Linked DNA regions of Homo sapiens. The protein of the gene in region 2 purifies or fractionates together with the protein of the main gene of each other region. This does not show direct contact. Each region holds a gene or a part of one and is shown on either strand. Other genes may lie near its edges. The genes, in order: LEMD3, AOC2 and GOLGA5.

Region 1 (12,111 bases), on a different chromosome or scaffold from region 2:
CTAGACAGGAGCCGAAACCTCGAAGAGGCGGCGGCCGCGGAGCAGGGAGGAGGGTGTGATCAAGTGGACTCCAGCCCCGTTCCTAGATACCGTGTTAACGCTAAGAAACTGACCCCTCTCCTGCCCCCGCCACTTACTGACATGGACTCAACCTTGGATTCGTCAACAGGCTCCCTTCTGAAAACCAATAATCATATTGGCGGTGGGGCCTTCAGTGTGGACTCCCCCAGGATTTATTCTAACAGTCTCCCTCCCAGTGCGGCGGTGGCCGCCTCTAGTTCACTCAGGATCAATCACGCCAATCATACGGGCTCCAATCATACCTACCTGAAAAACACATACAACAAACCGAAGCTTTCCGAACCCGAAGAGGAACTTCTCCAGCAATTTAAACGGGAGGAGGTGTCCCCAACAGGGAGTTTCAGTGCCCACTACTTGTCGATGTTTCTCTTAACTGCTGCCTGCTTATTTTTCCTAATACTGGGACTGACTTACCTAGGAATGAGAGGGACAGGAGTATCTGAGGATGGAGAACTCAGCAGTAAGTATTAAATCCTGTGGGTAAGGTAACAAAGAGAATGTTGTTAGTGGTCCGCTTTAGCCGCGCTTAGCGTTTTACATGAAGTGACTTACCTGCAAGAATATGGTTTAACAGCAAAAACGCAACAGTGCGTGCATGTGTCATCTTTCTTAAAGAACACCATTATCGAAATGATGTCATATGGCTGGTTTTAAAAGTTTTCTGCATGATGTATTGTGAAATTCAAAACAATTTTTAAAAGAATATTATAAGCTTGTTAGTAAAACTCATTTGTATATGTGACAATTCTCTTTTAGCCCTGAAAGACTATTTGCGCAGATGCCAGTTACTTAACAAATTTGAAGTATTAGGATAAGGCACATTATAAATGTAGTGTTTTTCCAAATTGAGTTGTGATTCTAATAGGCAATGTAATAGCTCTTGAAATTCGAATTATTTTATAATATTAACTGTATGCATAAATTCGGATTAAATATTTTGTGGTATTAACTGTATGTATAATTTCTTTATAGTGAATGAATATAAAAAAGCAGCAAGGCACACCTCTTAATTTATTTCCCAGCCCAAAGCACTTTCCCTATCATCTGTACAAAAAGTAGTGGTAGGGCAGTGCAGGAGCTTGCAGTCAGATTTCCTTGGATTGGTTTCCAGGTCCTACTATTTACTTGCTAAATGACTGTAGGCAGGTGTGTTCATTGTCATAATCAAAGTATCTCTGCCCTTAAACACAAAAAGAAGATGAATACAGACCATTTTGTGTTCTCTGAAGGAAATAAAGATGAGTAATTGGCGTACACAACTTTATTTTTTTTCCTTTTTTAAAAAAATTTACCAGACTACACTGACGTAGGTGTACACTACTTTAGATTGAACGGAGGAGGTACTATTTGAGGTGAGACCTGAAGCAGAAGGAGACAGCCTTGTGGAGAAACAGTAGACCATTCTGAGCAGAGATTAAGGCCTTGAGTTGAGCAAGAGCCTTCTTGTAGGTTAGAGTGGTTAAGCACCTTGAGCAAAGGGGAGAGAGTCAGAGTTAAAGCTTCTGAACTTTCCTAATCTATAAGATGAGGCCTCTATTGACTAGAATGTTTGTGAAGATTAAAAGAGAAAGTAAATTAGGACAAAATGGACTTCTGAATACATAATTTCTCAGTGTTAGGTCCCTCTCTGCATTCTCCCTGAAGGCTTCCTACTCTTTTCACCCAAGATGAATTCACTGTATTTTTATTTGTATTTATAAAATTGGCTTATTAGTTTTATTTCAAAATAGAGTGAAAGATGCAGTTAGCCAACTCAGATAAAGAGTAGGAGTCAAAATAATGTAAGCTTAGATTTAGATATAGCCAATTCCGAGACAGTCAAATAATAGATTTTTACTCTGTTGCTTAATTACAGGGGTTGAAACAAGAATGAAATTCAGCTCTCACTTTAGTTTATTCCCTGGGAGCATGAGTGTATTGTGTCCTGCCCCAAATATTTGGGAGAAAAAAAATAAGGGCACACTAGAAGTTAAACAAGTAAAAGTTCACATAAATTAAATGACATTACCTATCAGCAGTAGCTATCTGCATCTGTGTCTCTAACAACTATAAGATCTGGCCTTTTTCTTTTCTTTTTTTTTTTTTTTAGACAGAGTCTAGCTCTGTCGCTAGGCTGGAGTGCAGTGGCACAATCTCTGGTCACTGCAACCTCCGCCTCCTGGGTTCAAGTGATTCTCCTGCCTCAGCCTCCCAAGTAGCTGGGACTACATGCGCGTGCCGCCACACCTGGCTAAATTTTTTTTGTATTTTTAGTAGAGACAGGGTTTCACCATGTTAGCAGATCTGGCCATTTTCTAAGAGCTAATTGCTTTACACCTATTGTACCATCTAATCTTCCCAGCAACTCACAGAAGCAGGTGGTGGTATCCTCATTTTTGGATGAGGATGATACTAAGTTAAGAAATGCACTGAGTGTTGAACAGTTAGTAGTAGGGCTAAGATTTGGTTTCAGATTTTATTTCCAACTAGAAAGACCATTTTAACACTGTTTTGGTTATTGTTTGTAGAGAGCTTTCTAAATAAGTGGGTACCTTTATTATGATTAAGAAAGTAATTGACTATTTGGTAGGATTTCATACAGAATTATTGATAAGCACAATTCTCAGTTAAGGTGACTTTCACATCTTTCTCATCAGTGTTAAGATGAATGACTAATGTGGTGTACTAAAAGTTCAGGTAGAATAGGATAGGAATGCTAGGATTTTGGTACTCTTCACCTTCACTGATAAGGAAGGAAGGAAATTATATTTACATTTTAGTAAATGGTAAATGTGAAGTAATCTGGGCGTTGGAAAGAACAATGGCTAAGAAGTAGAGGATCTAGGTTCTAGGACTTGTCTGAATGACTGTGGTCAAGCTCCTTAATCTCTGAGCCTCATTTTTATATACTAAATGGAAGTAATAATATCTGCTGTCTCTGGGTTTGTTTGTGAGGGTCAGGTGAGACAGTGTGTTAAACATAAGGTGGTATTATTCAGAAATTTGGACAAAATTTGTTGTATTCCTGGTAAACTACAGTATATCTAGAGAGATAAATAGTTAAGACATTTCTATAAATGACATAGTATAGTGCATTTCTTAACCTAACATTTGATTTTTATCCCATTAAATATACATTATAGAAATTAATACAGAAATTTGAATCAAAGTATAATGAATCCTTAAATGTATGATACACTTGATGTATTGTATGTCTACCCTGTGGAAAGAAGTGCCTGCTAACTTCAGTTAGTCTGCACACCTAACAGTGTTAGGGTATCAAGAGTGAATAATATTTTCACTCCATATATATATACACACACATACATACACGTATTCCATATCCTTTGTTATATTATGATGCTTTAACTGTAGAGTTCATTGGTCAAATAGTATGCTTAGGGAAATACGTTTACTTTGAGTAATAGTTTTCACCAGAAGATTGTAGGTTATATGTGAGAGTAACTTTTAGGAGGCTTTTATTATTTAAATTACATATAACATATAGTAGATTAGTCTTTTAAATTGTTCTTAATCATATAGTCTTTGAAACTTTTTCATCAATGCCCTATTTTTTTATTAATTAAATTGCTATAAGTCTCTTCTTCCTCATCTATAAAACTAGGGGGTTGGATTAGATGATCCCTAAGCTCTTTCCAGCTCCAAGATTTAAGATTTTAACTTTGAACTGCCATACCAAAACAACTCAAGGATCAACCTGCAATCAGAGTAGTCGCTTGTTCCACAGGTGATTAGATCATTATAGCCCACCAAACGAAAATAGAGAAGCAGAATAGATTGACTGTCCTAGGCTCGTATGATCATTATTAATTTTTTTTTCAATTACAAAAGACATGACTTCTGCAGAAAGTTTGAATAGAGATGAAGGAAACAGTGAATGGTTATTGTATGCCTCTCTTCCTAGCCTCATGCTGCCCCCATATAAATAAGTTCAAGTATTAGATCCTTTCTGACCTTTCTTAGTATTTTTCATGTAAATACATCTCTGTGTGTGTGTGTGTATGTGTGTGTGTACAGATTTTCATTCAACAGCAGAGTGTCTACTATGTGCCCGGTATTATTTTAAGCAGCAGGGATATGTGGTGAACAATATGTTGCATATGTGGAAGATGAAATCTCTGTTACAGAGCTTACATTTCTAGGAGGGGAATGGACAAGTAAATAAGAATTTCACATAATGGTAGTTGCTAACACAAGGTATTGCTGGTAACTTTTGGGGGCTGAGGTGAAGAGATATGCAATATTACATAAAGGTAGGCAGACCTCTCTGAGGAAGGATGTTTGAACTGAGATATGAATGACTTGAGGGAACTAGCCTTTGATCAGGAGAAGAGCATTCTGGCAGAAGTATCAGCAAGTGCAGAATTCCTGAGGCAAAAACAGGCTTGTGTGTTGAAGGACCAAAAAGAATGGCCAGTGTTGCTGGGACATAATGAATGAAGGGGAAAATGGCATACCATGAAGTTAAAGGTAGGTATGGGCCAGATCATAAAGACCTAAACGCCTTGAGGGCCGTTGAAAGGAGTCAGAATTTTAAGTGATATTATAGCATACATATTCTGCAACTTGTTTTTTGTATCATGGGTAACTTTTCCATATACTAATTTTAAGTACAGAGGTATAATTTTAAAATCTCATTTTCCACTAGTCCCTTTCTCATCCTATAAAAATACTAAAATCTCTACCATTCTAAAAATGTTGCTCTTCTGTGCTCTTTTCTTCTCTAGTTGTTACTCTTCTCAAACTTTCTGCCTCTATTTTCTTCCCTGCCATTCACTCAACCCTGTCTAGTTTAGCTTTCTTTACCAGCCATTCCTCTGCTACCTCTCTTCTTCAAGTCACCAGTTACTCAATTTTCAAATCCTCATCTCTTTGGTACATTTAGTGCATTGACAACTCCCTTCTTCATGAAACTTTCTCCTTTCTAAGCTTCTGTATCACTACTCTCTCCTAGTTTTCATACTTCTGTCTGCCTGTTTTAAATATTGGTGGTCTCCACAACTTGATCTTTGGCTGTCTCCTTTTGCACACATTTCTCTAGGAAGTTTCATTCACTCTCCTTGTCATTATCTTCCAGTTTTGTATTTTTACCTTGGATTTCTCCTGAGATCTAGGTATACCTATTTGTTTACTAGACATCTTTTGGGTATACTAGAAGTATGTACCAATACCATCTGACATTTTCTTTATATTTACCTTGTTTTTGCTCCTCCTCCCTGTTTAGTTAATGGTGCTTCCATCCACCCAGACAGAGCTCAAGAGAGAAACCTTGGATTTACCTAGATTCTTTCCTTTCCCTCACCTTCCTACAAACCCCCAACCTAATTGGATACCAAGTCCTGTAGTTCTGTTTCCTCTATATCTTTTGAATCAATCTTTTTCTGTCCCTCGCCACTGTTCTAGGTTAGTCTCTTGCCTGAACTCTTTCAGTAACCTAAAATGGTGTCCCTGCTTCTAGGCTGTAGCTCTTCCAGTCCATTTGTCAGTACAGAGCAGCGTTTCTAAAGCACAAATGTGATCATTCCCTCTTGCTTAAAATTACACAATGGCTTTCTCTTAGTTATTGGCCAAAATCTAAACTCGTTGGCTAAACTGTTCATGATCTGACTATGCTTGCCCTTTCTACCAGTCTCCCTTATCACACTTACTTTCTAGAAAACTGAACTGTTTGCTGTTTTCTGAGTAAGTCATGAAATTTGTGCTTTTCTACCTTTGCACAGGTTATCCCCTTTTTTGGGAATGTTTCTTTATTTTGTAACTGTGATTCATTCTTAAACATGTCATCTCCAGATATCTCTGACTCTCCATCTTTTTACCCTAGAGTTTGGCCCATCATTTTGTGCTCAAATAAGACATTAATTGCATCCTTCATAGTATTTAGGACAAAGTATTATATTTGTGTGTCCACCATGCCAAATAGATGACAGCTCCTTTCTTTAGAGTAATATTTCTATAGGAGTAGAATACAGTGTTAAAGAGTACAAACTTTTTACTCAGTTCTGATTTTGGCTCTACTTTTTAAAGTAGACTATACTAGAGATATAATTGCCTCATACTAAAAATGAGATTGATAATACTATCTGAGGATGACTTGTATTAAGTGAGATAATGCATCTAAACTAGTGTTGTCTGGCACATGGAAATCTCTTAGTAGATGGAAGTCACATTAGTATCTTCAGCACAGATTCATTATTCAGCAAATATCTGTTGAATAAATGATCACATATCAGGTACTCAGGATATATGCACTGTTAACTGGTAGTATCTAACTCGGTAATTGGTTATCTACTTAGTATCTGGTAAGGATATATAAAAGAAATCTTATTTCTGTAGAAGCCTCCACACCACTAATAACAGTAATAGGAAATGGCTAAGAAACATACAGGATATTATGTGGTTACACACTTTTATAAAAGGGGAGAATTCACTGTAAATTCTCAAATGATCAGTCTTACATGATCAAAAGTTCTAAATTCAACATTTGGATTTTATTCTGTAGGTTGAGTAATGGCAATTCATGGAGGTTATAAAGCAGAGGACAAGCATGATCGAATTGGTCCTTTAAGAAGGATAAACAGGTGATGGTTTAGACAGTGATAGGGTTGGAGGGAAGGAGTAGGGTGATGACACCTGAAGGAGGTGGATAAGTGGGAATGGAGTTGGGCCTATGAATGAAATTCATTTGAAGAAAGACATATGGTTTTGAGTATAGAGAATAAGAGACAGATAGGAGTCAAAGATTATTCTGGCCATGAGCCTGGATGACTGAGAGAATGATAATATCATTGGAGGAATTAGAGATGTGGAAGAGGGATCTTGTTTGGGGAAAAGTGGTCTAGGGAAAATGAGTTTACTTGGGGCTTATTATTTGAGTTGTTCAAGTGAAAAATTCTTGTAGGCTCTTGTAGATACAGAATTGGAGTAAAGATGAGAGACTGGTGCTGAATGTGAGTACTAGTACTGTTTACTAAGGGAATACTTTTAAATGTTTGTTTTTTTAATGTGTTGTTGTTTTCTTTAAAATCAAGACCAGTTGTTACAAAGAAGTAACATGTTTTAATGTCATTGTCGTTTAAAAAATATTTTTACTTCTTAAAGTAGACTAGCCAAAAGGTCCCGAACTTGGTATCTAAAATGAATATGGGGAATAAGGATTTTGAAAAATAGCTGTTGCTCTCATTCTTTTTTTTTTTTTTTCAATATGAGACAGGGTCTTGCTGTGTCACCCAGGTTGGATTGCAGTGGTGTGATCATGGCTTACTGCAGCCTCAACCTCCCAGGACTCAAGCAATCCTCACAGCTCAGCCTCCTGAGTAGCTGGGACTATAGATCTGCATCACCACATCTGGCAAATTTTTTGTATTTTTTGTTGAGACAGGATCTCACTTTGTTGTCCAGGCTGGTCTTGAACTCCTGGGCTCAAGCGATCCTGTCACCTTCGCCTCCCAAAGTGCTGAGATTACAGGTGTCAGCCATAGCAGCCGGCCTATTCTCTCATTCTTGAAGAATGAAAGCTCCATGTTATGTTTGAAGTTTTACGAGTTGACTGCTTTGTAAGAAAAAAAAAAAAATCCTAGATCTATGAGAATATTCCCGTGAATGCCAGGGATTTGCATATACCAGTTTGATGATTTCAGAAATTAAAGTCTACTCTATGAAAATGTTTTTCATTTGAAAATTTTCCCTAGAATGATTTAAATTAAAAATAATGAGGAAAAACTTGTGAATCTCTACAGATATATCCACGGAGACTAGTTTGAGGATACACTGGCATAGCTATCAGAGAACCTGGGCTTCAATATTGGCCCTTCCACTTACTAGCTTTTTTTCACTAAGGCAAGTTGCTTAGCCATTGTAAACCTCAATATCCTCATATGAAAAATAGGTTAAATGAGAATGAAGTAATGTGTGTAAAGTAAAACTCATACATGGCACATAGTAATAATAATAACTAACCCTTACGTAGCATTAACTGTGTTCCAGGCACTGAGCTAAACAATTATTATTTAATCCTTATGAGGTAGGTACTTATCCCATTTTATAAGTAAATGGAGACACTGAGAAGTAACTCGCCCAGGGTCATGTAGCTAGTAAGTGAAGCGGCAGTATTTGAACTCAGACAGTGGCTCTTAACTGTTCTTCTAGATTGCCTTTTAATATGTATAAATAAGGACTTGATATATGTTCTCTACTATTATTGTCTTTATTTTCAGAAAACTGTGACAAGTATAGATTCATAAAATCCTAGAAGTGGCAGGAATAATCTATGAAACCTAACAACTTTAGGAAAAGTTGTATTCATTCAACAATTATGAATCACATGGAACTATTTATCCTTAAGGTTTTAGATTAATTAAGGGGGAGGGGGCATCTGCTATGAAGCAAACTATAATATATAATACATAGAACAATAATACAATATTAAAACTATTTCTAATTTTTAAAATATTTGCAGTCTCAAAACTGGTAGGGAAAGTGATCTTTTGATTTGTATTACCAATTACAACTTGTTCTTTCTGTTGTTCATTTTTAGGATATAAAGAACTTTTCATACATTTGATCTCCCTTTTTTGCTCCTTTTGAATAAACTTCATATTTTCCCTTTATACTCATATATGTTTTAATGGAAATGATGCATTTGATAATTTCAGGGACACTAAAATAATCATGAAAAATTATTTTCATGATTCCTAAGAGTTGGGAAGTTCTTAAAGCTTGCTTCTCCTTGCTCATTGATTATTCAATATTAACTTTCCCTATCTGAAAAATATGTTATATAAATGGAAATTTATAGCCTCAGTGCAAAGATAATTATATAGTTTGTAAGTTGTTTAAAAGAGAAGGACACCTTAAACTGTTGGAACTCTCCAAAATGTATTTGTTAATAAATAAGTACTACTAACTTGTTTGTGAAAATTTTATTACTAATGATATAATCTAAATTCGAATGAAGATATATTCTAGGGGTGGGGAGAATATCAGGAAAAATAGCTAATGCATGCTGGGCTTAATACCTAGGTGATGGGTTGATAGGTGCAGCAAACTGCCATGGCACGCGTTTACCTATGTAACAAACCTGCACATCCTGCACATGTATCCCAGAACTTAAAATAACATTTTAAAAAAGATGTATTTTAATCTTGTATTGATTATACATTAAAAATTGCTGCCATTTAATATGGGAACATAGCTTAATACTAATTGTGGAAATTGTTATAACAGTTATTTGCTTATAACTTTGGATTTTGATTTTCATATTTAGATTTATTTTTAACATAGATTTTATTTATTTTTTATTTTTTTGGAGACAGGATCTTGTTCTCTCGCCCAGGCTGGAGTGCAGTGGTGCAATATCGGCTCACTGCAGCCTCCATCTCCTAGGTTCAAGTGATTTTCCTGCCTCCACCTCCCAAGTATCTGGGATTACAGGCACATGGCACCACGCCCGGCTAATTTTTGTATTTTTTAGTAGAGATGAGGTTTCACCATGTTGGCCAGGCTGGTCTTAAACTCCTGACCTCAGGTAATCCACCTGCCTCGGCCTCTCAAAGTGCTGGGGTTACAGGTGTGCGCCACCGTGCCCTGCCCTAACATAGATTTTAAAGTGAACCAGTAACAGTATAGTTGAGCAGTAACCTTTGGATTTCACTGTTTTAATAATCTATGCTTTAAACTGCATCAGTTTATATATTATATATTATATATATAGTTAATAATATTCTTTATTAACAATATTGCCAAAATTTTTTTAAACAAGAGTTTACCAGGAAGAAAATAAGTTAGGTTTTAATAATTTATTTTGCATGTTTAATATCATTATTTAAAAAATATATTTCTTAGGAAATTAGCTCTTCAAAAAGGTTATAAAAGTTATAGTAACAGAGGTAATCTCTAAAAATAGAATAATGCATCTATCATATGGAAGCCATCATGAATTACTTTTCATATGTCTTCATTTTCTTTTATGTCAAGGTATAGTTTAAAATTATACCACTGAATTTTTCCTGGGTGCTAGATTTATTGCTCTGTGCTTTTGCACAGCTTTTTACTTAAAATGCTTTTGCAAGATGACTTCTGAATTCATCTTTACAGCTATGTTACTATCAAATGGCAAGCTAAAGTTTAAAAACAAGGCTTGGTTGTAAAACTATGCAAGAGTGTAGTTCAGCTCTCCTGAACTAATTGGGTAGTAAGTATGCACCAATTGCTGTTCTGCCCTGAATATGACATGAATAGAAAAAACCCTTTAGTAGCAAATGGATATTTTAGCACATAGCAGAAAATTAATTTTGTTTCTCAGTTAGCTCATATATATCTGAGTATGTACACAAACACACACACACACACACACAATTTTCTGACTATGGCTAATTCCTGAAAGCATGCTGTACTTACAAAGGATGCTTTTGCTCTGTAGGAATTCACCAAGGTAAAATTTTCAAAGCATATGAAGAGGATTGTTGAAATTAATTAGGAGGTGAGGGGAATCTTGGGATATCTACTTCTTCTAGCCTCTGAGCTATGGCTTGGAACCTTGGTCAGCCTTATTAAGGACTTCCTTAGTTTATAAGTGTATCTCCCATGGGATCACAAATGCTTTCTTGTTTGATTTAGTTCATTTGAAGAAACATTAAGTTTCTCCTACTCATTTATTCATTCAGTCACGCATTCACCCAGATTATTTATTGAGCACCTATACTATGTACCAGGTAATGGCAGAAGATAAGTATATATCATACCTTTTAGAACTATAGGAGTGACACTCTCCCCACGCTTTGGCTGGCATTCTCTTCTTTTTCCTAAATATTTCTGCACTAGCTAGCCTTCAGAATTGGGATTTTGTTACCATGCAACAGTGTATCAGATTTATATATTGTGACTTGGGAAACATACTTTAAAAATTAGTTTCTGTAAATTTGAGTATACCATCTGGTAAAGCTTATCACAGTGTATATATACACAAAAGAAATAGTTGGCTAATTGAAGTAATGTGTGTTGATCATTCCTTTCACCTTTTCTGTATTACCATTTTCTCAATTGGGAATTCTACCTTTAAAAACCACACAATTTTAATAAATGTAGGTTTTATTTTTTGCAGGTTTTTAGGAGTAATTTTTAAAAAAGGAAGAGACATGAAGAATGAATTTGCCAAAAATGAAAATGTTATAAAATCTGAACATTTATGATTATGGTTCAAGATGTTCTAGAAATATTCTTATCCTTTTGACAGAAGTGTTTTGTTTTTTTTTTTTAATTTCATCTCTAAATGTCCCGTCTTTCAGATTTTAAAGCCTTAGGTGAGAAGAGCAAACATTTATTGAGAATTTTCAATGTGTGTGAGCATTTTATTTTAATTTTCATGAGGGTAACTACTCATACTATGTCTGTGAGAAAACGGAAAGATAGAGGGAATAAGGTTACAAGTGATTTGTCCAAGGTCCCACAGCTACTAGGTGTTGGAGCCAGCATTTGAACCCAAGATCTAACTTTAGAGTTCACAGTATTAACTACCAGGCAGCAGTAGAATTTTTTTATACTTTATCTTATCGTTAGCTACAGGCTTTATTTGGGCAAGCAAGATAAACACAACCTCTGGGCCTTGCTTTTTGTGTCTGTTAAATGAGGGTATAGTAAAATCAACTTTACTTCCAGCCAGTGATTTTTGTAGGGAACTGCTGTGATAATGTCTGTAGAAATGCTTTGGAGAAATTTGGAGTGATATATAACTGTAATTTTAATATTATAAGATAGGACTTAACAGCTATAGTAGTTTAAGCAACACATGTTCAGCATTATGACATGTCCTGTCAGTAATGTTAATAAGTAATAGAGTTGGCTAAATTTATAGTCCTTATCAGTATTTAAACCTTTCAAGCTGTCTGAGCAGATAAAAGGGAGTTATCTTTTCACGTTACATAATTAGTGCCTTCCTTATCTCCAGGACTGAAAAATAATGTGGTTTTTTTTTGCAGCTATATTAAACAGGTGATGACACAACTTGAAACTGGATTGTAGCCTTGCTGATCACTA
Region 2 (8,739 bases):
GAGGCTTCTGCCTACTGAGCAAGGTTGGGTGCTTCATTTGTGTTCAGTCTGAATTATGGGAAAGTTAGCTCTTCCCAGACCTAAGCTGCCTTCTCTCCCTACTTTCAGAAGATCCTAGTTCCTTCCTTCCCGAGTGATACCCATGAACTGCCAGTAGAGGCTGCTATCGTTCCATGTGTAAGGAATGAACTGGTTCAAGGCGCGTCCTACCCAGTCATTTTCTTTACCTTATACTAATTCTTCCTGAATAATGTCTTCAGTTTCTTGAGGAGACTCCTAGTTTTGGTTTTCAAATTACTTGGAGGGCTGCCTAGGAATCTATCTCCCTCTGAAATAAAGTTTCCTCATCTTCCACCTTGCAAGTAGCCTTCTGGTTTCCAATGATCCCCTCGTTGTCTCTGTAAAAAGAGTTTAAGGTCTTGAACAATGGAGGAGCAGCTGCTCTGTTCTGTTTCAGAGATGACTACCAAAAGCTAGCGGTTTGTGAGTGCCTCCCCTGTGCCAGGCTGTTAAGTACCTAATGTGCATGATCACATTTAATCTTCAGGAATCTATAGGATAGTTGTATCTATTTGTTACAGATGAGGACACTGAGACTCAGGATAAGTATTTCCGCTAAGGTTACACAGCTGAGGGAACTGGGATTGGTGGACAAACCTGATTACTAAGCCCAGGCCCTCAGCCACTCCACTGGTTGGAAATGGCCTGACTACAAATCAAGGGCTTGGCATTAGGCAACAAGTAGAATTCAGTGCTTACTGCTGAACATGGCAGTGAATCCTGGAGCTGTTGGGATGCAGTTCCTGCCAGGAGGTAGGAAAATGGACAGCTTAGTGCTTGCATGCAGGCTGCAGAACTTAATTGGGCATCTGAGGTTTGTACTCTTCCTGAGACCCATTCCAGGTGGAAACTGGAGGTTAGCATCGTTAACCCAGATTCCCTTTCATCTGGTCTAAATGATGGAAATCAGTAGTTGGTACTGACTGCTACCAGTGGGAGTTCAGGGGCAAGGAAGAGGCTATGCATGTGGAAGCAGTGCCCTGGGCCAAACCACAGGACAGAAAATTGGAACAGAATTACATAAATCAAGGTCAGAAATTTCCTGCCCAACCCATGGGGTGGAGTTTTCTCCCTTCCTATCCATCCTAGCGAATATAAACCCCGACTTGATGTCAGTAACTGGAAGGAGCAGCTGTTAGAATTCTGATTTCAGCTCTCAGCATCCACCATGCATCTCAAGATAGTCCTGGCGTTCCTGGCACTGTCCCTCATTACCATCTTTGCCCTGGCCTATGTTTTGCTGACCAGCCCAGGTGGTTCCAGCCAGCCTCCCCACTGCCCCTCTGTATCCCATAGGGCCCAGCCCTGGCCACACCCTGGCCAGAGCCAGCTGTTTGCAGACCTGAGCCGAGAGGAGTTGACAGCTGTGATGCGCTTTCTGACCCAGCGGCTGGGGCCAGGGCTGGTGGACGCAGCCCAGGCTCAGCCCTCGGACAACTGCATCTTCTCAGTGGAGCTGCAGCTGCCCCCCAAGGCTGCAGCCCTGGCCCACCTGGACAGGGGGAGCCCCCCACCTGCCCGGGAGGCACTGGCCATCGTCCTCTTTGGTGGACAACCCCAACCCAATGTGAGTGAGCTGGTGGTGGGGCCGCTGCCTCACCCCTCGTACATGCGGGATGTGACTGTGGAGCGTCACGGCGGGCCCCTGCCCTATCACCGTCGCCCGGTGCTGAGAGCTGAGTTTACACAGATGTGGAGGCATCTGAAAGAGGTGGAGCTACCCAAGGCACCCATCTTCCTGTCGTCCACCTTCAACTACAATGGCTCTACCCTGGCAGCTGTGCATGCCACCCCTCGGGGCTTGCGCTCAGGGGACCGAGCTACCTGGATGGCCCTCTACCATAACATCTCAGGGGTTGGTCTTTTCCTTCACCCCGTGGGGCTGGAGCTACTACTGGACCACAGGGCCCTGGACCCTGCCCACTGGACTGTCCAGCAGGTCTTCTACCTTGGGCACTACTATGCAGACTTGGGCCAGTTGGAACGGGAGTTTAAGTCTGGCCGGTTGGAAGTGGTTAGAGTCCCTCTACCTCCACCAAATGGAGCTTCATCCCTGAGGTCTCGGAACTCTCCAGGTCCTCTTCCCCCTCTTCAGTTCTCGCCCCAGGGTTCCCAGTACAGTGTGCAAGGAAACCTGGTGGTATCCTCCCTCTGGTCATTTACCTTTGGCCATGGGGTGTTCAGCGGCCTGAGGATTTTTGATGTTCGGTTCCAGGGTGAGCGAATAGCCTATGAAGTCAGTGTCCAGGAGTGTGTATCTATCTATGGTGCCGATTCACCCAAGACGATGCTGACTCGCTATTTGGATAGCAGCTTTGGACTCGGCCGTAACAGCCGAGGCTTGGTGCGGGGAGTGGACTGCCCCTATCAAGCCACGATGGTGGACATCCATATATTAGTGGGCAAAGGGGCAGTCCAGCTGCTTCCAGGGGCTGTGTGTGTATTTGAGGAAGCCCAGGGACTGCCCCTTCGAAGGCACCACAATTACCTTCAAAATCATTTCTATGGTGGTTTGGCCAGCTCAGCCCTTGTGGTCAGGTCTGTGTCATCTGTGGGCAACTATGACTACATTTGGGACTTTGTGTTGTACCCAAATGGGGCACTTGAAGGGCGGGTCCATGCCACGGGTTATATCAACACAGCTTTCCTGAAAGGGGGAGAGGAGGGCCTCCTCTTTGGGAACCGTGTGGGGGAAAGAGTGCTGGGAACGGTGCACACACATGCCTTCCACTTCAAGCTGGACCTGGATGTGGCAGGTGAGTGCTGAGGGGATGAGGATGGAGACTTGGGGGCGGGGTCAGGTGGGGTGGAGGGAAGGGAAGGGAATCTCCCAGGTCAAGCTGAAATAACAAGTGGCAAGAGCAGGGTGTTCCAACACCACAGCTCTAGTGGCAACAGGGCAGGGACTGTTTGAGCATATTCAGTGCAGTGAGTCTGGTACTGGGCTACTGGGTATCTGGTAAAAGGTGAAAAGAGTTCCCCCGCCCAGCCCCTCTGACTTGCTATGATTGTGAAACTAGTTTAAATGTAATGGCTGGGCATGATTGCCTTAGCCTCAAGTGACACTGGGTGGGTGAACTGGCCCAATGGGGCTGGAGTTGGAGCACTTTGCTTCTTCCTAATTCTGAGGGTCAGTAGGGGTGGGGAGGGCAGGGTCCTGAGCCGAGGTCGGAAGAAGTCTGTCCAGAGTCTTCAGGGTGGGGGTCGACCTGGGGCTTAGGAAGGAGAGGGTAGCAAAGCTGGGGTTGCTCCCCAGGATAGGGCCACTCCTCATCGGGAGGGCCATCCCATTCCTGTCATCACAGTTGACTCATGGCAGGCACACAGCTTGCTGCAAGTATGGAAAGAGATTTCTCAAGCACAAAGGGCTCAAAGCACACAGAGGACTTGCTGTTCCTGACAGACTTTGTCAAGGACAGAAAGGAACTTACAGACTCACACACTGATCCACAAAGAAAATTAGAAACTCACCAGACCCTCTCCATTTTAAGGGAAACTAAGGAGGGTGGCGGGAGATGGGACAGGAAATGACTGCCCAAGTATAATGCAACATAAACTAGTATTTCTTGTGAAATGTTTTCTTATCCTCAAGTCTAAAGACATGGCACGTGCGTGCCTGCGTGTGTCTCTGTGCATGCACTTGCACTTGTGTTCGCAGTGGTGTGGAGGGTAGGAAGGACTAATAGCATGATTGAAATGATCATATTAACTAGATTACTCTTTGACATACTTGGATTTTGACTTGTCTTCTGATTGGAAGTTTTTCTTCAGCATCTTTGGCATTAAAGAGGCTTGTTTTGGGAAGTAACATTTATTGGACCCCTAGCGTGTGCAGCATGGGCTGCTGCTGTGGGCCAGAGAGGCTGTGTCAGGCACCAGCTCACAGGATGGCTGCAGAGGCACCAGCTTCAGTGCAGTGCCTCCCGTGCCAGGTACCTTCATATAGGTCTCGTTGAACTTACAGTCCAGACCTGCAGAAAGTGTATGACCAAGTGCTGAGTTAGGCAGTGCAGGTTATGGATGCTGTAGAATTCCAAGGAACTCCCAGACAAAGGTATGAATGTGCTTGCTTCTGAAAAACACTGACAGTACTTCCCACCTTGCTGAGATCAAAAGTGAAGTCTCAGAGCTGGGAGGAGTATGCAGGGGACCATGGGAAGGGATTGGGTTTTCTTTTTTTGAGGCAGTGTCTCACTGTCACCCAGGCTGGAGTGCAGCGGTGCAATCACAGGTTACTGCAGCCCTGACCTCCTGGGCTCAAGCAATCCTCCTGCCTCAGCCTCCTTAGTAGCTGGGATGACAGGCATACACTACCACGCCCAGCTTTTTTTTTTTTTTTGAAGACAGAGTCTCACTCTGTTGCCCAGGCTGGAGCACGGTGGTGCAATCTCAGTTCACCGCAACCTCCACCTCCCAGGTTCAAGCGATTCTTGTGTCTCGGCCTCCAGAGTAGCACACCACCACACCTGGCTAATTTTTTTAAATTATTTATTTATTTAAGTAGAGATGGGGTTTCACCATGTTGGCCAGGCTCATCTTGAACTCCCGGTCTCAAGTGATCCACTCGCCTCGGCTTCCCAAAGTGCTGTGAGCTACCATGCCCGGCCTTTTTTTTTTTTTTTTTTTTTTTTTTAAGAGGCAGTGTTTCATTCCGTTACCCCAGCTGGTGTCCAGCACCTGGGTTCAAGGGATCTGCATCACCCTGCCACCAGCCTCCTGAGTTGCAAGCTGCCACACCCGGCTCAGGAGTCAGTTTTTCAGCTAGCTTCTCCAAGACAAATATCATTATCCCTTTCATAGTTAAAAGAATGTCACTAGTCAGCTGCAAGTGCTTTTCTGTTTATTGGGCACAGCCATAGAACAGCTTTAATTATGCCCAGTGTAGGGATTCAGAAAGTGAATCAGAGAAGCAAATTGGTCCAGGGACTGTTTGGTAGTCCAGTGCTAATAGAACTTTCTGTAGTGATAGAAATATTCCGTATTTGAGCTGTGGCTCTAAACAATAGTCACTAGCCATGTGTGGCAACTGGGCACTTCAAGTGTGGCTAGTGTGACAGAGGAACTGAATATATATATATATATATATACATATATATATATATATATATTTTAGACAGAGTCTTGCTCTGTTGCCCAGGCTAGAGTGCAGTGGTGTGACCTCAGCTCATTGCAGCCACAACCTACTGGGCTCAAGCAATCCTCCTACCCCAGCTTCCCAAGTAACTGGGACCACAGGCATGTACCACCATGCCTGGCTGATTTTTTTATTGTTTGTAGAGTCAGGGTTTCACCACGTTGCACAGGCTGGTCTCAAACTCCTGGGCTCACATGATCCACCCGCCTCAGCCTCCCAAAGTGCTGGGATTGCAGGTGTGAGCCACCTCAGCTGGCCCTAAGTTTTAATTTTCATAGCCACGTGTGGCTAGTGGTTACCCTATCGGATAGGGCAAGTTGGAAGAAGATAGGAGCTTGCTCTTGCCCAGACCTCCTGGCTCCCAGCACAGTGTGCTCTGATGCTCTCTCTGCCTTTTGTCACACCAGTGCAGTGGACATCATGGGGAAGACAGGGACCTGGCCCAGAGACCTTACCTGGTGTGGAACTCATCTCCTTTCCCTCCCCCTGGCAGGGCTGAAAAACTGGGTGGTAGCTGAAGACGTGGTGTTTAAACCTGTGGCTGCCCCCTGGAACCCGGAGCACTGGCTACAGCGCCCACAGCTGACTCGGCAGGTCCTGGGAAAGGAGGACCTGACAGCTTTTTCCTTGGGAAGCCCCCTACCCCGCTACCTCTACCTGGCTAGCAACCAGACTAATGCGTGGGGTCACCAGCGCGGGTACCGAATCCAGATCCACAGCCCCCTTGGCATACACATACCCCTGGAGAGTGACATGGAGAGGGCCCTCAGCTGGGGGAGGTGAGGAGGGCCCTGGCCTGGGTGGAAGGAAAGGACAGCCCCTCCCCTGCCCCAGTCCTTGGAGACAAACTCCCTTCCCACGGCTACCATTCATCCCTGTACCTCCCCTCAAACCCAAGTTAGATACACGGTGGGAAATGGTCTCACACAGAATCGGATCTAAGGGACTCCTGGGCCAGTAAAGGCACTTGACATTTCCCAAAACCACCTTCTTATGATTCCTGGCCAGATACCAGCTTGTGGTGACCCAGAGAAAGGAGGAGGAGTCACAGAGCAGTAGCATCTATCACCAGAATGACATCTGGACACCCACAGTTACCTTTGCTGACTTCATCAACAATGAAACCCTCTTAGGAGAGGTTGGTTGCCCTAGGGACATAGGAAAGGGACACCTGTGGGCATGGCATCTTGGCTGCCCAGCCTCTGGCCAAAGGTTAGAGGGAATGGCTGATTTCCAGTTCGCAGATTCAGAGGCCATGGAGTTTTCTGATGACCAACACAGGTCATCCCTCCTGGGGTGAGATTAGCTCTGGGACACTGGCTCCCCCCTCTCCCCGCACAGCTGCTTACATGGATTGCTCCACGTGTTGTATGGGCATGAGGCTGGGGAGAGTGGAAGCCAGGCTGAGACTGGAGGCTGGGATTGTGACTGAAGGGTGGTTCTTTGGGTCACGCTTCCATAGTCCTCCAGCTCCTCCTTCTTCTTGCAGGATCTGGTGGCTTGGGTCACAGCCAGCTTCCTGCACATTCCCCATGCCGAGGACATCCCAAACACAGTGACTCTGGGGAACAGAGTTGGCTTCTTGCTCCGACCCTATAACTTCTTTGATGAGGACCCCTCCATCTTCTCCCCTGGCAGTGTCTACTTTGAGAAGGGCCAGGATGCTGGGCTCTGCAGCATCAATCCTGTGGCCTGCCTCCCCGACCTGGCAGCCTGTGTCCCGGACTTACCCCCTTTCTCTTACCACGGCTTCTAGTCCTGAGGGTGTGGCGGGCGGCGTGGTTAGGCACATGTACTTTTCCCTGTTTCTACTTTCTATTCTCCGTGTTTTTATCACACCTGCTCCCCAGATTCCCACCCCCTCAATGTTCCTCTCACACGAAACCCCCATCAGTCCCTTTGGTTAATTCTTACTTCCTGTTCATCTCTAAAGTGTTAAATTATAAAAATGATTTTTAAATATTCAAAGAAAAATATCACAAATCCTACTACTCAGAAATAGGTGGTCACATTACATCAGACATCTCTTTATGCATGTGCATTCAAAAGGAAGAGTAGATAGAATTTTGTAAAACAGATGTTGTATGTAATTTATAATAAAAAGTATTAGAGGAATTTTACTTGAATTTATTGTTTGACCTGTTAAGTATCTAGAGTCCTCTGGAGAATACTAAGGAGTCTGGCCAGGGAAATTAGCGCTGGGGGCCAGAGGGCAAGGGGGATAGACCTGGCCAAGGAATGTCATTTGGAAAGCTAAAGGGGCAGGGGGTGGGGGTCTTTGGAAGGAAAACGATAGTTTGAAGTTACAGGAAAATATCTGGCCCTGACTAAGTGGGGGACTGGGGAAGAAGCTGGGCTGAGGTCAGGAGAGGCTGCTCTGCACAGATCCTGCTCCTTCCCAGTGCTGCATTATCTTGAAATTTTCCTTCCCCTTCCCCCTAGCCCCAACTCTCCCCAACTCCAACCCTGACCCAGAAAGTAGAGTGATTTGGAGGCTGGAAGACAAAACCATGTAAGGTCTGTGGAAATCACAGCTGTTCAGACCCGCCTCCAACCCCGGCCACCCCGCCCCCTTGCCCTAGCCTTCCTGTGTCCTTCCCACCCTTAGTCCCAGGCATCTGACTACCGGGAACCTCAGCCAGAGTCCGGGAGCCCCCCACCCCGTCCAGGAGCCAACAGAGCCCCCGTCTTGCTGGCGTGAGAATACATTGCTCTCCTTTGGTTGAATCAGCTGTCCCTCTTCGTGGGAAAATGAACCAGAAGACAATCCTCGTGCTCCTCATTCTGGCCGTCATCACCATCTTTGCCTTGGTTTGTGTCCTGCTGGTGGGCAGGGGTGGAGATGGGGGTGAACCCAGCCAGCTTCCCCATTGCCCCTCTGTATCTCCCAGTGCCCAGCCTTGGACACACCCTGGCCAGAGCCAGCTGTTTGCAGACCTGAGCCGAGAGGAGCTGACGGCTGTGATGCGCTTTCTGACCCAGCGGCTGGGGCCAGGGCTGGTGGATGCAGCCCAGGCCCGGCCCTCGGACAACTGTGTCTTCTCAGTGGAGTTGCAGCTGCCTCCCAAGGCTGCAGCCCTGGCTCACTTGGACAGGGGGAGCCCCCCACCTGCCCGGGAGGCACTGGCCATCGTCTTCTTTGGCAGGCAACCCCAGCCCAACGTGAGTGAGCTGGTGGTGGGGCCACTGCCTCACCCCTCCTACATGCGGGACGTGACTGTGGAGCGTCATGGAGGCCCCCTGCCCTATCACCGACGCCCCGTGCTGTTCCAAGAGTACCTGGACATAGACCAGATGATCTTCAACAGAGAGCTGCCCCAGGCTTCTGGGCTTCTCCACCACTGTTGCTTCTACAAGCACCGGGGACGGAACCTGGTGACAATGACCACGGCTCCCCGTGGTCTGCAATCAGGGGACCGGGCCACCTGGTTTGGCCTCTACTACAACATCTCGGGCGCTGGGTTCTTCCTGCACCACGTGGGCTTGGAGCTGCTAGTGAACCACAAGGCCCTTGACCCTGCCCGCTGGACTATCCAGAAGGTGTT
Region 3 (7,000 bases), on a different chromosome or scaffold from region 2:
TGTACACTGAGGGCAGGCACTGTGTCTTACCTGCCTCTGTATCCCCTATGGGACACATGAAGGAATGAATGAAACAACTAAATGAGCTCAGTGCAATGGAAGGTAATAAAGACTTGCTACTCCTACAGAATTCAGTTGAGAGGAGTCAGCTCTGAACTTCAACACATTCACAATATGCACGTGTATGCAAAATAATCAGTTGATTATAATGCAGAGTGATTAAAACTGCTAGATACACATGAAGTTGGTTAGAAAACACTTTTAGAACAGTTATAGTTGGTATTCTGAAAGAGAGTTTAACCAATGTTCGGTGAAGAAGAGATGGGAAAATATTCTAGACAGAAATAATGTGTCGTTTCAGAGGCTGATGTAGGGCCCAGAACACGATTCATAGTGACAAATTTAATTCCCTCATGGTAGTACCGAAATGATACGAGATTCCATCACTAAGTGCCTCACCACTTTGTCGTGTGCCAGAAATCACATCTCATGGGCACCATCTCATGACAGTGCCCGTGTTACTCATCATCACTAACACCTGGGAAATCAACCCCTCTGGGGCATATTCTGAATGCTTTCTGATGCCATTCAATTTTTTTTTGTACTCCCCACGCTTTCCTTCTTAAAAACTTGTTATTATGCCAGGTGCAGTGGCTCACACCTGTAATCCCAGCACTTTGGGAGGCCGAAGAGGGCGGATTACTCAAGGTCAGGAGTTTGAGACCAGCTTGGCCAACATAGTGAAAACCCATCTCCCAAACACAGAAAAATTCGCTAGGTGCAGTGGCGTGCGCCTGTAGCCCCAGGTACTCGGCAGGCTGAGGCAGGAGAATCGCTTGAACCTGGGAGGTGGAGAATGCAGTGAGCCAAGATCATGCCACTGCACTCCAGCCTGGGTGACAGAGCGAGACTCAGTCTCAGAAAAAAAAAACAACACAAAACCTGTATTTAAAGGAATAACTCTTCCCTCTAGTGGATCACAGAGAAATTTCTTTTTAAAGAAATTTCTTTTCAAGAAAACAGCCCATTTTCATTCAACCCAACTACTTTTAGACATACCCACTCCAAATAGTTAGCAGCCTTTTTAGGCACACGGTACATGCGAAATGGCATCCCAAACTACCGTAACCATTTTACTAGAGGTAAGAAATCTGGGAGAAAGTAAATCAATCTTGAGGCTCTTTTAGAAAATAAAGCAAAACACATGAAAACAATTAAAGCAACTTTACAACGTCAAGATAAAAAATTGTTTTGTATTCAAATTGTTTTTATCATTAGAAGGGCTTTAAAATGGAGGTAACTATTAGACTGCGTTTAATTTTATTTGTAGGAAAAGCCTTTGAGGAATTTATATTCTAGACATAATGAATTGTCAATTTATACTCTACCAAAAGAAATCTTAATTACTAAAACTGAGTTCTCTCTTTCCAAACTGTCTGCTGGCTGGGTGCGTTGGCGCATTCCTGAAATCCCAGCACTCTGAGAGGCCAAGGTGGGAGGATCACTCGAGCCCAGAAGTTTGAGACTATCCTGGGCAACATGGTGAAACCCTGTCTCTACAAAAAATACAAATATTAGCTGGGCATGGTGGTGCACGCCTGTAGTCCCAGCTACTTGGGAGGCAAAGGTGGGAGGATGGCTTGAGCCTGGGAGGTAGAGGCTGCAGTGAGCCAAGACTGCACCACTGAACTCCAGCCTCAGCAAAAGAGCCAGACCCTGTTTCAAAAAAAACAAAAAAAAATTGATTGATTGCTAAAATATCAATAAGATCTGTAGCCAAAACAAACAAACAAACAAAAAAAAAAACTAGTTAAAAATCAAGTGCATCATTGTTTTTTCAAATAAATTTACTTACCATATATATAATTACAAAAACTCGCGCTATGGGGTATCTTCGGAGAAAAATTCCCAGGCGAATACTGTGCAGACACAGGTGTGAGGGGGAGAGGAGAGAGAAGAGTCACAGTCAAAACAAATCTTCCTGTGGTAATATCTAATGATGCTGATAAATTTAACTCATTTAAACTATTTATGTGGCTACCACAGAAGAACAATTTTTATAGCAGACTGTTAAATGATTACTTGAAATAATAATATAAAAATGTCATAGAGGTAAATAAATGCTTTTATCATTATTTGGGGCTTGGCTGTTAAACTTCAGCACAGGTATTTCTCTTAATTCTACAGCCACAACTGTAGGAGGCAAACTTGATCCCTAATTTTTTTTTTTTTTGAGACGGAGTTTCTCTCCTGTCGCCCAGGCTGGAGTGCAATGGCGCGATCTCTGCCCACGGCAACCTCTGCTTCCTGGGTTCAAGCAATTCTCCAGCTTCAGCCTCCCGAGTAGCTGGGATTACAGGTGCGCCACTACCACCACGCCTGGCTAATTTTTTTGTATTTTTAGTAGAGACGGGGTTTCGCCATGTTGGCCAGGCTGATTTCAAACTCCTGACCTCAGGTGATCCGCCTGCCTCAGCCTCCCCAAAGTGCTGGGATTACAGGTGTGAGCCACCGTGCCCGGCCTAAATCTTTTTTTAGTGGAATTACAGAAGTTACGAAAGATTAGGTGGGTGTCAACTATGTGACTGGGGAAAAAAAGAGTCTGGTTGGCATTAACCTGCAAATAGCTAATCTAGAAGCTTTTGTATAGATACATGCTTCTAAAAGGTACAAAGCTATAAACTCATGCATTTGAATAAATAGTGTGGAAGCAATATGATGTCCAGATCTATTATGCCTCTGCAACATTTTTTTCCCTATCAAGACAGATACATGCAGAAGCAATACCCCTTTCTGCTTCTTTCATTGCCACTAGCACAATGTCTTGCACTTAGGTTCTCTAACAACTACGTATGTTGAATAAATGAATAGTTGAACTAGATGTGCTTAATTTGGACATAATGGCTATGGCATCCTAGTTCTGAGGCTTCAGTCATCTTGGTATATCATTCTTATTTTTAATACAATAGCTCAATTCTGACACAAAAAGGTACAAAAAGATTATTATGCCACAATTCATTAAAACTTTTCATTATAAACACTACAAAGAAAAAGGGTACAGTAGGTTATTTAGACAAGAACCTTATCAATGCTATATGTAAACTATTAAAATATTTTTTTGATAAGGCAGATGTCTGCTAATATAAAAAATTTACATATACATAAACATAAATTTTGTTATTTATATAAAATATATAATACAATGAGTGCTGTTCAGCTATATATAGTAGCATCTTTTATTCTAATAGCATGATAAAATTCTGGGATAAAACATTCAAATGGATACTTTTACATGAAGTAGAGGCTTTCTCAATAAAATTTAATGAAGTTTTTAAAAATAGAATTTATTATAGAAAAAAGAGATACAGTCAGGGTTAATCATCTTCAATAAAATGTAGGCATTGGCAGACCTCTTGACATAATTTCTGACATGATATTTCAAATATCATGAAAGAAGTCACTTCATGAAAGTGTAATATAACTGTGAAATAAATAAAAGTGTATATAAGTATAAAATATCTTGAAAGGAGTAAGTCACTTTAAATATAGACTCTGCCTGATGGGAGTCACTGTGATTGAAACCCTGAAAAACGTAAAAACAGCTGATGGTCCATCACTCATCCCTACTGGCATTGCTTACCTAAACTGATCAATTGAACTAGCAGCTTTGCGAACTTTTCCGTACATTCCTGCCAGATTAGTTTCTGTGTCATTAAAAAGAACAGGAACATTTCGCAGACGAGTGCCTGTTTAAATAAGAAAATAAATTAGTGTACTGACATAAAAATTAACTAAGACAATTATAATTGGAAATACACTGTATTACATGTGGAAGGAATTTTCAAGGGCAACTTTCTAAGCATCACCCCAAAGTAGATGAAACTATAAAGAAAGGACAGGTAAATTTGATGACATAAATATTTAAACATCCATATCCACAACAAGAAAAAAGTTTTAAATAAGAAAATGATTTTAGCAAAAATTAAGAAATTTACAAATACTAAGCGTTGACAAGAGTCAATATTAATGGGCCCTTTGTTCCTATGTGAGGAGGAGTGAGGCCGGGTGGTCTTTCTATGAAGCAGAGGACTCCCAAATGTGTACTCCAGCCCAGAGGCTTCATCCCCTGCCAGACTCATCCAACTGCCTATTCGCTTCCATCCAGATATCTAACGGGCACCCCAAAGCCTGCCTAACACTACAATTCAGAGTTCTTGTCCTCGCTGTCAACCTGCCTCAGCTGCCATTTCCCTGTCTCAGGACATCACAATTCCAATCCTTCCATCTGCTCAGGCCAAAACTCTTGACTTCTTTCTCTCAAACTCCGTATCTCATCTGCCAACATATTCTGTCAGCTTACCTTTAAAATAAATTCTCAGTCCACCTTCACAATCCCACTCAGTTCTAGACTACCATCTCTCACATGGATTAATGCAATGGCTACCCACCCACCTCCGGCCTCCTCTTGCCCTGTCTCCCTGCTTCCACTTTTAGCCCTGTGCAGTCTATTCTTGACATGGCAGTCAGAGGCAGCCTATTAAGGTGCAAGTCAGATCAGTCCCCCCTCTCAAGATCCTTCAATGGCTTCCTACCTCATTCAGAGTAAAAGTCCCCATACAGGCCTCAACGGCCTATTCTAAGCTCTCTGGATTCATCTTACACAAGTGTCTTCTTCACTCAGTCTACTCCAGAGGCCTTGGCCTCCTTGCTGTTCCTGAAATATGCCAGGAACATGCCTGCCTCAAGGCCTTTGTGCCTGCTCTTCTTTCTGCCTGGAACACTTTTTTTCTATGCCTCCTCATTGTTCACTATCTTACCTCCTTTGGGACTTTAAAGAAGTGACACTTTTCACCGTATGTTCTCACTCATAGGTGGGAATTGAACAATGAGAACACATGGACACAGGAAGGGGAACATCACACTCTGGGGACTGTTGTGGGGCTGGGGGAGGGGGGAGGAGGGATAGTATTAGGAGATAGACCTAATGCTAAATGACGAGTTAATGGGTGCAGCACACCAGCATGGCACATGTATACATATGTAACTAACCTGCACATTGTGCACATGTACCCTAAAACTTAAAGTATAATAATAATAAAAAAATAAAATAAAAAAAAAAAGGTGAAACCTAAAAGAAACTGAAAACCCTTAAAAAAATCACAGAAGTTATGGTCAGGAAAATTTTATTAATTTAAGCGAGGCACTTTTTATTTATGCCATTAAGGAGTATGATTTACTTATTTATAATTTCATTTTTACTTGTAATTAACAATTACAAATAAAATGATAATTATACATTAAAAAAAAAAAAGAAGTGACACTTTTCAACGAGGTCTTCCTGATCACCCTTTTTAAATTACAGTGCCATCCCCATACCTGGCACCCAGCGTCTCTTAAACAATTTTTTTTATTAAAAGAAATAATTTAAAGCCAAAGAACTGAGAAATTTGCTGAATGACAATTTGTAGACTTTACGAAGTTCCAAGATTAAAAATCTGATCTGTTGATGCTTATACTATCTTACACATTATTTTTTAATTACATATGTTGGGAATCTATAGATTTCTTTAGATATGGTTATGTGAACTATGTATTAGCTCTAATACCCGTAACTATTTACTGGAAGATTATTAAAGCAAATCTTGTTTCAAGTGTCCTGAAAGCTCCTCTCTACTGAATTCCTCGCCTTGTCAGCATCATCTTGTTAAGTGTCTCAGACATTACAATATAATTATCAATCCTCAGACTACTTTCCCCAAGTCTAATACTGGTGAGGAATATTAATTAGTCCATTATCCGGTTCACTAACAATACTAAACAGTACGTGGCCCAGGTCTCATATCAGAAAATTGAGTCCTTCACTGGATGAAGTTTCTTTCAAATAAAAATAGTCCTTCTATAACTTTTCAAAAGCATGTTTGAATGAAATGTTCTTTTGAGATTCCTTTTTTGATTACCTTCACCATTGTCAATTCCAGACATATTAATCGAAGACCCATTACTACTACTTCCAGAGGCGGAGTTCATCTGCTGTTCGAGGCGCTCCAGTTGAAAGACCAGGGAGTTCTTTTCTGTGCTGAGACTCTCCAGCATGGTCTGTTTCTGGATGAGAGTCTCTGTTAGCTGATGGAGTCGATTTTCTAACTCAGACTGACTGCTATTGCTTAAAGTTTTATTGGTAAGCTGAAAGAGAAAGTGTTCACAAAATTCTTACATAAAATGAAAGTCATACAATACAGAAATCACACTACTACATTTTCATAGGTAAATTGTGGCATTCATTGATTTCTCAAAACTCTATACTGACTCAATGTCTACAAAAGTGATTTTCAAAAACTGGGGTCATGAAATCAATTTGGTGGGTCAAAATCAGCATTTTAGAAAATGTAATAGAATGGGACATATTCTGATATTTATGTAACATATAGTATATATAAAAGTATAATTTTGTGAAACTCCTGTTTCAGTTTGGTACATGTAAGTGCATGTCAGTACTGAGACACGATGTAAACTGTTTTTCTCACTGAGGCGTCATGGTCAAAGTATTTCAAAGCATGGGTTTAGAGGACACAATCCACACTTTTCAACAGGGATTCAAAAGCCTCCGTCATTCAACAGTTACGGTGCAGTGCAAAGATCACACTCTGAGGTTTTCATCTCTGCTCTGCAATTTTCAAGCTATTTGACTTCAGGTTAATTGCTATACTTCTCTGAATCTGTTTCCTCATCTGTTAGTGAAGATGACAGCACCCGTTGCACATGGTATTTAGGGACAGTAAATGATAGTTGTCCTAGGAGACTCTGGCTGAAAGTTGATACTTAACGACTTCCTTCATTCCATCTTCCATCTGGTCTTATCTGTCTCCATCTCCCTCTACTCTCCTCCAGCCTCCGCTATGCCGGCCACGTTTCCTCTGTTTGGAAACTCAATCCCCTTCTCTTATCTAGGCTCCACCTGCCTTTCTTTCTTATAAATCCCTTACAGCACTCCCCACAAATT

What was found.
Region 1: the proteins of AOC2 (region 2) and LEMD3 purify together in Homo sapiens (affinity purification with mass spectrometry; 2 studies listed by BioGRID and IntAct, with this or other methods). This does not show direct contact.
Region 3: the proteins of AOC2 (region 2) and GOLGA5 purify together in Homo sapiens (affinity purification with mass spectrometry; 2 studies listed by BioGRID and IntAct, with this or other methods). This does not show direct contact.

The regions. Positions count from the first base shown.
Region 1 is NC_000012.12:65,170,578-65,182,688, forward strand, and holds part of LEMD3 (inner nuclear membrane protein Man1), read left to right. Parts: coding exon 1-541; intron 542-12,111.
Region 2 is NC_000017.11:42,843,399-42,852,137, forward strand, and holds AOC2 (amine oxidase [copper-containing] 2), read left to right. Parts: upstream 1-1,181; 5' UTR 1,182-1,228; coding exon 1,229-2,816; intron 2,817-5,687; coding exon 5,688-5,973; intron 5,974-6,202; coding exon 6,203-6,332; intron 6,333-6,683; coding exon 6,684-6,950; 3' UTR 6,951-7,309; downstream 7,310-8,739. Other genes in the region: AOC3 (amine oxidase [copper-containing] 3), read left to right, coding at 7,946-8,739. UniProt on the Homo sapiens protein: Catalyzes the oxidative deamination of primary amines to the corresponding aldehydes with the concomitant production of hydrogen peroxide and ammonia. Has a preference for 2-phenylethylamine, tryptamine and tyramine.
Region 3 is NC_000014.9:92,832,305-92,839,304, reverse strand, and holds part of GOLGA5 (golgin subfamily A member 5), read right to left. Parts: intron 6,184-7,000; coding exon 5,958-6,183; intron 3,747-5,957; coding exon 3,641-3,746; intron 1,920-3,640; coding exon 1,856-1,919; intron 1-1,855. UniProt on the Homo sapiens protein: Involved in maintaining Golgi structure. Stimulates the formation of Golgi stacks and ribbons. Involved in intra-Golgi retrograde transport.